Homo sapiens: one gene and its partner. The protein of the gene in region 2 purifies or fractionates together with the protein of the main gene of each other region. This does not show direct contact. Each region holds a gene or a part of one and is shown on either strand. Other genes may lie near its edges. The genes, in order: SEZ6L2 and TAFA1.

The links.
Region 1: the proteins of TAFA1 (region 2) and SEZ6L2 purify together in Homo sapiens (affinity purification with mass spectrometry; one large-scale study listed by BioGRID and IntAct). This does not show direct contact.

The regions. Positions count from the first base shown.
Region 1 is NC_000016.10:29,892,750-29,896,568, forward strand, and holds part of SEZ6L2 (seizure 6-like protein 2 isoform 5 precursor), read right to left. Parts: intron 3,112-3,819; coding exon 2,972-3,111; intron 2,712-2,971; coding exon 2,510-2,711; intron 1-2,509. UniProt on the Homo sapiens protein: May contribute to specialized endoplasmic reticulum functions in neurons.
Region 2 is NC_000003.12:68,535,658-68,539,476, reverse strand, and holds part of TAFA1 (chemokine-like protein TAFA-1 isoform 1 precursor), read right to left. Parts: intron 722-3,819; coding exon 597-721; intron 1-596.

The DNA of each region.
Region 1 (3,819 bases), on a different chromosome or scaffold from region 2:
ACACAGTTCTCTCTGTCTCCATGAAGCATAGGAAGACAGTGGGGTCTGGAACAGGGCACTGGCTGGGCCCCTTTCCTCATGCACACATGTCTGCTAGAACACACCCTTGTACTGTGGGAAGGTTCCCGCACACACAGGTAAGCATGGATGTACACACATGTGCAGGTCATCTGTCATAGGTCCTAACAAATGCAGTCGTGCGTGAATACAGCCCCCCTTTCCTGCCCCCAGAAGTCAGAAGGATCTTTAAATTGCAAATCTGAGGCTTTCACTTTCCTGCTTAAAACATTTCAGGCCAGGCACCATGGCTCACGCCTGTAATCTCAGCACTTTGGGAGGTCAAGGCAGGAGGATTTCCTGAGGTCGGGAGTTCGAGACCAGCCTGACCAACATGGAGAAACCCCGTCTCTACTAAAAATACAAAGTTAGCCGGGAGTGGTGGGGCATGCTTGTAATCCCAGCTACTCAGGAGGCTGAGGCAGGAGAATCGCTTGAACCCGGGAGGCAGAGGCTGCGGTGAGCCAAGATTGCGCCATTGCATTCCAGCCTGGCCAACAAGAGCAAAACTCCATCTCAAATAAATAAATAAATAAATAAATAAAATTCAAATTAGGAGGCCTGGCGTGGTGGCTCATGCCTGTAATCCCAGCACTTTGGGAGGCCAAGGCGGGTGGATCACTTGAGGTCAGGAGTTCGAGACCAGCCTGGCCAACATGGTGAAACCCCATCTCTACTAAAAATACAAAAATTAGCCAGGCGTAGTGGCAGGTGCCTGTAATCCCAGATACTGGGGAGGCTGAGACAGGAGAATCATCTGAAGCTAGGAGGCAGAGGTTGCAGTGAGCTGAGGTCATCACCACTGCACTCCAGCCTGGGCAACAAAGTGAGACTCTGTCTCAAAAAAAAAAAAAAAAAAATTCAAATATCTGCCTGTCACACCTGCAGGTTGAAGTAGTCTGGACTGCTTACTGAAGCAGATAAGGCTCTTTATGGTCTGAATCTGACCTGCCTCCCAGCCTGGTCTCTGGCCCATTTCCCCTTCACCCGCTTCTGTGCTTTGAAAGTAATAGCAGTGACTGACAGTTTTGAGCTCTCACTGTGTACCACACGCTGTTTGTGTTTTTGTTTGTTTGTTTTTGAGACAGAGTTTCACTTTTGTCACCTAGCCTGGAGTACAATGGCGCAATCTCAGCTCAATGCAACCTCCGCCTCCTGGGTTCAAACAATTCTCTTGCCTCAGCCTCCCAAGTAACTGGGATTACAGGTGCTTGCCACCATGCCTGGCTAATTTTTGTAATTTTAGTAGAGATGGGGTTTCACCATGTTGGCCAGGCAGGTCTTGAACTCCTGACCTCAGGTGATCCACCAGCCTTGGCCTCCCAAAGTGCTGAGATTATAGGCGTGAGCCACCACGCCAGGCCACACACTGTTTTAAACACTTGACATGTATTAATTCATTTGATCTTCCCCATAATACTAAGTATTGTGATCCCTATTTTTCAGATGAGATCATGAGGCACAGAAAAGTTAAGTAACTTGTCCCAGGTCACACAGCTAGGACAATTCTATCTTCCATGCTGAATTCCTTCACCTCATCTGGGGGTCACGTCTTCTCTCTCTGGGTCTTGGAGTGTGCTTTTTCATCCACTTAGCCATCTGCCTCCCTCCTTCTCTCCCTCCCTCCCACCCTTTCCCTGGCGAATTTATCCTTCAGGTCTCAGCTTAGTCATCATCTCCTCCAAGAAGATGTCCCCATATTCCTTGGGAGAAATTTAGGTCCCTTGGCTATGTGCTGCCCCCGCTGGTGTTTCTGCCATCATATTCCTTATCTCCTTGAATTATAACCATCCTGATTACTCATCTGTCTTCCTACCTAGATTCTGAGCTCGTTGAAGCCAGATTTACACCTGGTTTGTTCATTCCTCCTTCAAGGCTAACACAGGGCCTGGTATGAAGCAAGCACTTGATAAACATTTGTTGGATTCAATGGATGAATTGTCCCTCGGATGTGTGCACAGATCTGTGAGTGTGTGAGATAAGTATGCATGGGTCTCCTCTGAGGGCCCTGCCCCCCAGGGTCGCAGTCAGGAGGAAAAGCCCCCTTCGGCACCCTGTGCTTCGATGGTTCTTAAAGATGTCCCCTCTATAGGCCGGGCACAGTGGCTCTTGCCTGTAATCCCAGCACTTTGGGAGGCTGAGGCAGGTGGATCACAAAGTCAGGAGATCGAGACCATCCTGGCTAACGCGGTGAAATCCCATCTCTACTAAAAATACAAAAAATTAGCTGGGCATGGTGGCGGGCGTCTGTAGTCCCAGCTACTTGAGAGGCTGAGGCAGGAGAATGGCGTGAACCTGGGAGGCAGAGCTTGCAGTGAGCTGAGATCACGCCACTGACCTCCAGTCTGGGCGACAGAGCAAGACTCTGTCTCAAAAAAAAAAAAAAAAAAAAAGATGTCCAGTGTATGCAGTATGGCCCCTGCCCTTCCAGCAGCACCCTCAAACTCCTCACCCTGATAGTGGATCCTGAAGCCACCGCCCCTTGGGACCCGTGGGCTCTGGAAGTGCAGAAGCAGCCGGTTGGTTGGGCTCCGAAGGACTTGTCCTTCTCCAAGCATGGATGAGTTGGCCAGGAGTCGGGGGGCCAGGCCTGGGGATCCCCCACCAGCCAGCACCAGGAGCTCCTCTTCCTGTGACAGGTTCAGCGTCTGCACCTAGAGAAGCCAGACACAGACCCGCCAGGGCAAGTCAGCCAGGTGTTTGACTTCCAAAGCCCCTGTCCTGTGCCTTTGCCCTGTGTGTAGCAGCCCAAAAGGCACCACGCTGCTGCCCAAGTTGTAGAAATCTAGAAGAGTTTTTGAGGTCACCTGAGTCATCAGACAGGTTCTTTGGCTCCCAGGCCAAACCCGTGCACACCCACAGCCCAGAGGAAAAGGCTTGGAAGCTGCACAGTCACATGCTTTGGTCCAGTTACCTGGATCTCAATGCCGTAGCCAGGGTAGACATGGATGCTGTAAGTGCAGTCCAGGAGCCCCAGGGTGCGGCTGACGGGGCTCCCCAGATCTGGAGACTCCACATACCCTTCGCCCTCGGAGATGTTGTTATTACACAGAACTGAGGAGATACAAATGGCTGGGATGGAAGGAATGCCTGTGCTTTTGCCCTCCCAGCCAAGCAACTCTGGCCTTCATCTCCCTTCTCCTTAGCACTTCTCATCATCTTTTTGTTTTGTTTGAGACAGGGTCTCGCTCTGTCACCCAGGCTGGAGTGCAGTGGTGCAATCATGGCTCACTGCAGTCTCAAATTCCTGGGCTCAAGTGATCCTCCCTCCTCAGCCTCCCGAGTAGCTGGGCCCACAGGTGCACATCACCATGGTGAGACAATTTTTAAAACTTTTTGTAGAAATGGGGTCTTGCCACATTTCCCAGGCTGGACTCAAACTCCTGGCCTCAAGCGATCCTCCTGCCTTGGCCTCCCAAATCACTGGGATTACAGCTGTGCGCTGCTGTGCCCCCCTCACCATCTTTTATTTTTTTATTTTTATTTTTTTAAGATGGAGTTTTGCTCTTGTTGCCTAGGCTAGAGTGCAATGGCTGGATCTCAGCTCACCACAACCTCCACCTCCCGGGTTCAAGCAATTCTCCTGCCTCAGCCTTCTGAGTAGCTGGGATTACAGGCATGCGCCACCACGCCTGGCTAATTTTGTATTTTTAGTAGAGACAGGGTTTCTCCATGTTGCTCAGGCTGGTCTCGAACTCCCGACCTCAGGTGATCTGCCCGCCTGGCCTCCCAAAGTGCTGGGATTACAGGCTAGAGCCACCA
Region 2 (3,819 bases):
AGCTAGCTGGGCCTTTCTGCCCTGCTCCAGCATAAGGGTGCCAATTTTGATGGTTTGGATTACCCCACCCTGAAGATTGTTATTTATTTAGAAGATCACTCCTGATTTAACCAAAGAAATCAAAGAATGATGTATTCACTCCCCAAAACCCTTTTCAGTTCTCTGACGGATCATCACAGAACTCTTTTAAAGAACATTAGAAAATGGCTTCTGTAGGTGTACTTAAACGCAGACCCTTTCAGCAAACCATCTGGATGAATTAGGGAGGAAGTTCATTTGATTATCATTCTGAGCATTATAAATGTTGGATGAATTATCCGAATAATTACCTCATGATTCCTCTCCACTCTGGCTGGAAACCCAACTTAATTTATGAGTCTGTGACAGAAACACTAAACTGCTCAGTGTGGGAAAGTCAAGTTCAATCTCTAACGTCTCATTCACGGATGGACACTGATCTGCATAGTTCAGAATGCTTTCTGTCAGTGGAGAATCTTCTCTCCTGTGCAAAGCTTCTGTGGATGCTGTTTGCACAGCACAAACTCAAATAGTACAGTCTGTAACATCCAAAATACATTTGAAATAAGTGCACTTACTCTCGTGGTCTTAATTTTGTTGCCTGTTGCGCACATCCATCCAGAATTGTCAGGGAGTGTCTTACATTCTTCTCCTTCTAGGCAAGGCTCCATCTCACACCACCATTTCCCAATCACTATGGAGGCTGTGCAGAAACAGGAAACAACTGTGTTTGCAATTCATCCAAACAACCTGAACACTGACGTTGTGTCCCTCTGCAGATTTTCACGTTCTTGGAAGCACACTAAGTTCTCTTTAATCCTCCATGACTAGCTAAGAAAGCTCTATTAAAAAAATAAGATTTTAATTTATATGCCTTATAATGCAAATATAATTATGTGGACTGGTTTCATCAAGCAGCATTTTTGTTGGGGATTGAGACTGCCTTTTCAAAATTATGACAGTAAGAGAAACCTAACATAGCTGACTCCATCTTGCTTCTAACATCCAAGCTATCTTTGGTCATTCCTGGGCATAGGCTAAGCTAACTTTGGGAGGAATTTAGTTTAAACTTAAAGCAAGGATAATAATAACCCTTCCCAAAAGTAAACTGCCTTTGTAAAACTAATGAAAGGCCACAAAGTTAGGACTATGAGAGGGGGCTGAATTCTCTTAAGATATAGAAGTAGTTAAATGATAATCAGCTACTGTTCTGGAGGCTGCGAGATTTGTAACTTTTCCAATTATTCCTGTAGATAATATCACTATTGTAGAACTGAAAATTGACTGAGATTTTTTCAGACTTTTGCATTCTAGCAACTGACTCCACTGAGACCCACACACTCAGGACCCAACCAGTCCTGTGGCCCCCACCTGGAGGCTGACTTAGCACATGAGAACTGTTTGCCACACCTCTATCATTTCAACCCCAATCAACATTCCCCATTCCCTAGCCCCCTGCCCACCAAACTACCCTTGAAAAATCCTAACCTCGAAGACTTCAGGGAGCCTAATTTGAGTGATAACTCCAGGTTTCCCACGTGACCAGCCTTGAGTTAATTAAACTCTTTCTTTACTGCAATATCATGGTCTCAGTGAATTAGTTTTTGTCTGTACAGTGGACAGGAAGAACCCACAGGCAATTAAAACAATCTTTTTGTTTTTATGCCAAATGCATATGGAAGAGGAAGACTTATGAAGGAAATAAAAATATTTTACTCCAAAATATGCTTCTTTGACATAGTGTGAGACGGCTGTTCAGAGAGTCAGCAAACAGAAGTAGTCCAGCAAAGTTTTCTTTCATGGGGGAGATTTGTATCTATAAAGAAAATCTGCACTGATACAACCAGGCTTTCTCTGAAGCCCCCATTGTCCAGTCTAGGAAAAATTAACTGAGAGTCTGACACTTTTAAAGGCCTAAAAGAAATATTTACCAGCTATTTTCTCTGAGGGCTGCTACCTGTGAGACCAACGTTGCTAGCCAGGCCTCCTTTTCTCTCCCTTCCCTAACCTGTCTTGCCATATAACCTGATTTACCATCATAACCTGTTTTGGGCCATGCACTGAGTCCCCATTCTTTATGAAGTTTCAAGATAGTATGTAAGTTTTTATATGCCATTAGGGGGTTAGTGTAATCACTGTGATTCTCCCTCATGTACACATTAATAAATTTGTATGCCTTTTCTTTTATTAACCTGCCTTTTGCCCATTGATTTTTCATCAAAATTTCAGAAGATGAAGGAGTTTTTCTTTGCCCCCTACACTTAATTTTTGGGTCTTCAGGAACTTTCGTGCTCTTAGCTTTTGTAGAGCACAGATCTTGCACTATTTCTATTCAATGAAGGGGACAAATGCCTCAATACTCTTCAGAATGACTGAGGCATTCTTCTCAGAAAGGCAAATTTATCCACCAAGCATTAGGGTTTATCGCCTAGCCTAGGGCCTTGAAGAATTTCAAAGGCCTGGCATAGAAAAAATGAATTGACTGAAAGTACAAAAGAAAAGTTGCAAAATAAAAGTCAAGAGTAATATTAGATAAAAATATATCCTTACCATCAAGAGTATAGTTGATATGAGTTGTGGTTACCTTTTAATATGTTTAATATGATGTGGGGGGAACTATCAAAAGTTGAGCCTCTGATAAAGCAGCCCTAATTTTCAGGGGAATATCAAGGATGACCACAATAGGAAGCTGGCAATGAATTTAGTGTATGTACTAAATATTTACAGCACACATTTTCTGATAACAAAATTTTATAAAACCAGTGACTAGATTCACTCAATGCAAATCAAGAAACTCTATATTTCCCTTAATGCCTTAATTGAAAAATGATTTCTACACAAGCACCAGTCATTTCTGTAGCTCCTCCCTGTGTTAGCTCTTCCCAAATCCACCTGGGCATTTCCCATTCAGAATCCTCAAAATGTCAGCCAGGTGTTTGTCTTACGATGCTTTCTGGTTGGCTGTTTTTACACGGGACGAGAACCCTCGTTCTTTACTCACTCCCCTCCATCCCCCATGTTCCAAAGATGCTCTCCACCATGATCTTTAAGTCTCACAACACAAAGAAGCCAAATGACATATGATAATGTCACAGAGGATTAACATTAAAACGGGATGGAGTAGACCCTGAAGCAAAGCAGGAGCACATTAAAATTCTCTCTCTATCCAGTATTCACTAGAGGGATGAGATTGCTGACTTAAAAGCAGAATGGTTTAACCATCCAGACATCTCTCTGCCCTTAGGCTTTCCTTCTATGCTTTTCTTACTTCAGTCTTCCCCTTCTTTAGAATTCAGTGTTCCTCAATCTTTACTTTGAATAAAATTATTATGTAGTGAGGAAAGAAAAGAACTTTTATGTGAGGAATGTGAGCCTTTTCAAATTATTAGGCCCAGGGAGGTGTAAAATGAGATAGCAATCACACCCTGCTTCCTCTGTTTTGAGACACACATTCATCTAAGGAGATGGCTTGCAATTGCCACAAATAGCTATGCATTAACCTAATAATGCCTCAGTGGACACCATATCCCATGCCCTATAGCTTAACAATGGATAGCCAATCACTAATGAATGTTATTTCTGTAAACCAATGAGAGTTCCTAACAAAAACTTTCCCCCATCCCCATTTTTCCCCCTTTAAAAACCTGCTTTTAACTATGGCCAGTAGAGCTCATATCCAAGATTACTATGGTCTGAGTCTTCCAGGCAGCTATCCTTATTTTGGTTCAAATAAACTCTTCAAGTTACATTTTGTGCTTCAGGCTCTTCCCTTTAGGTCGACAGTAGGATTCTATATGCAAA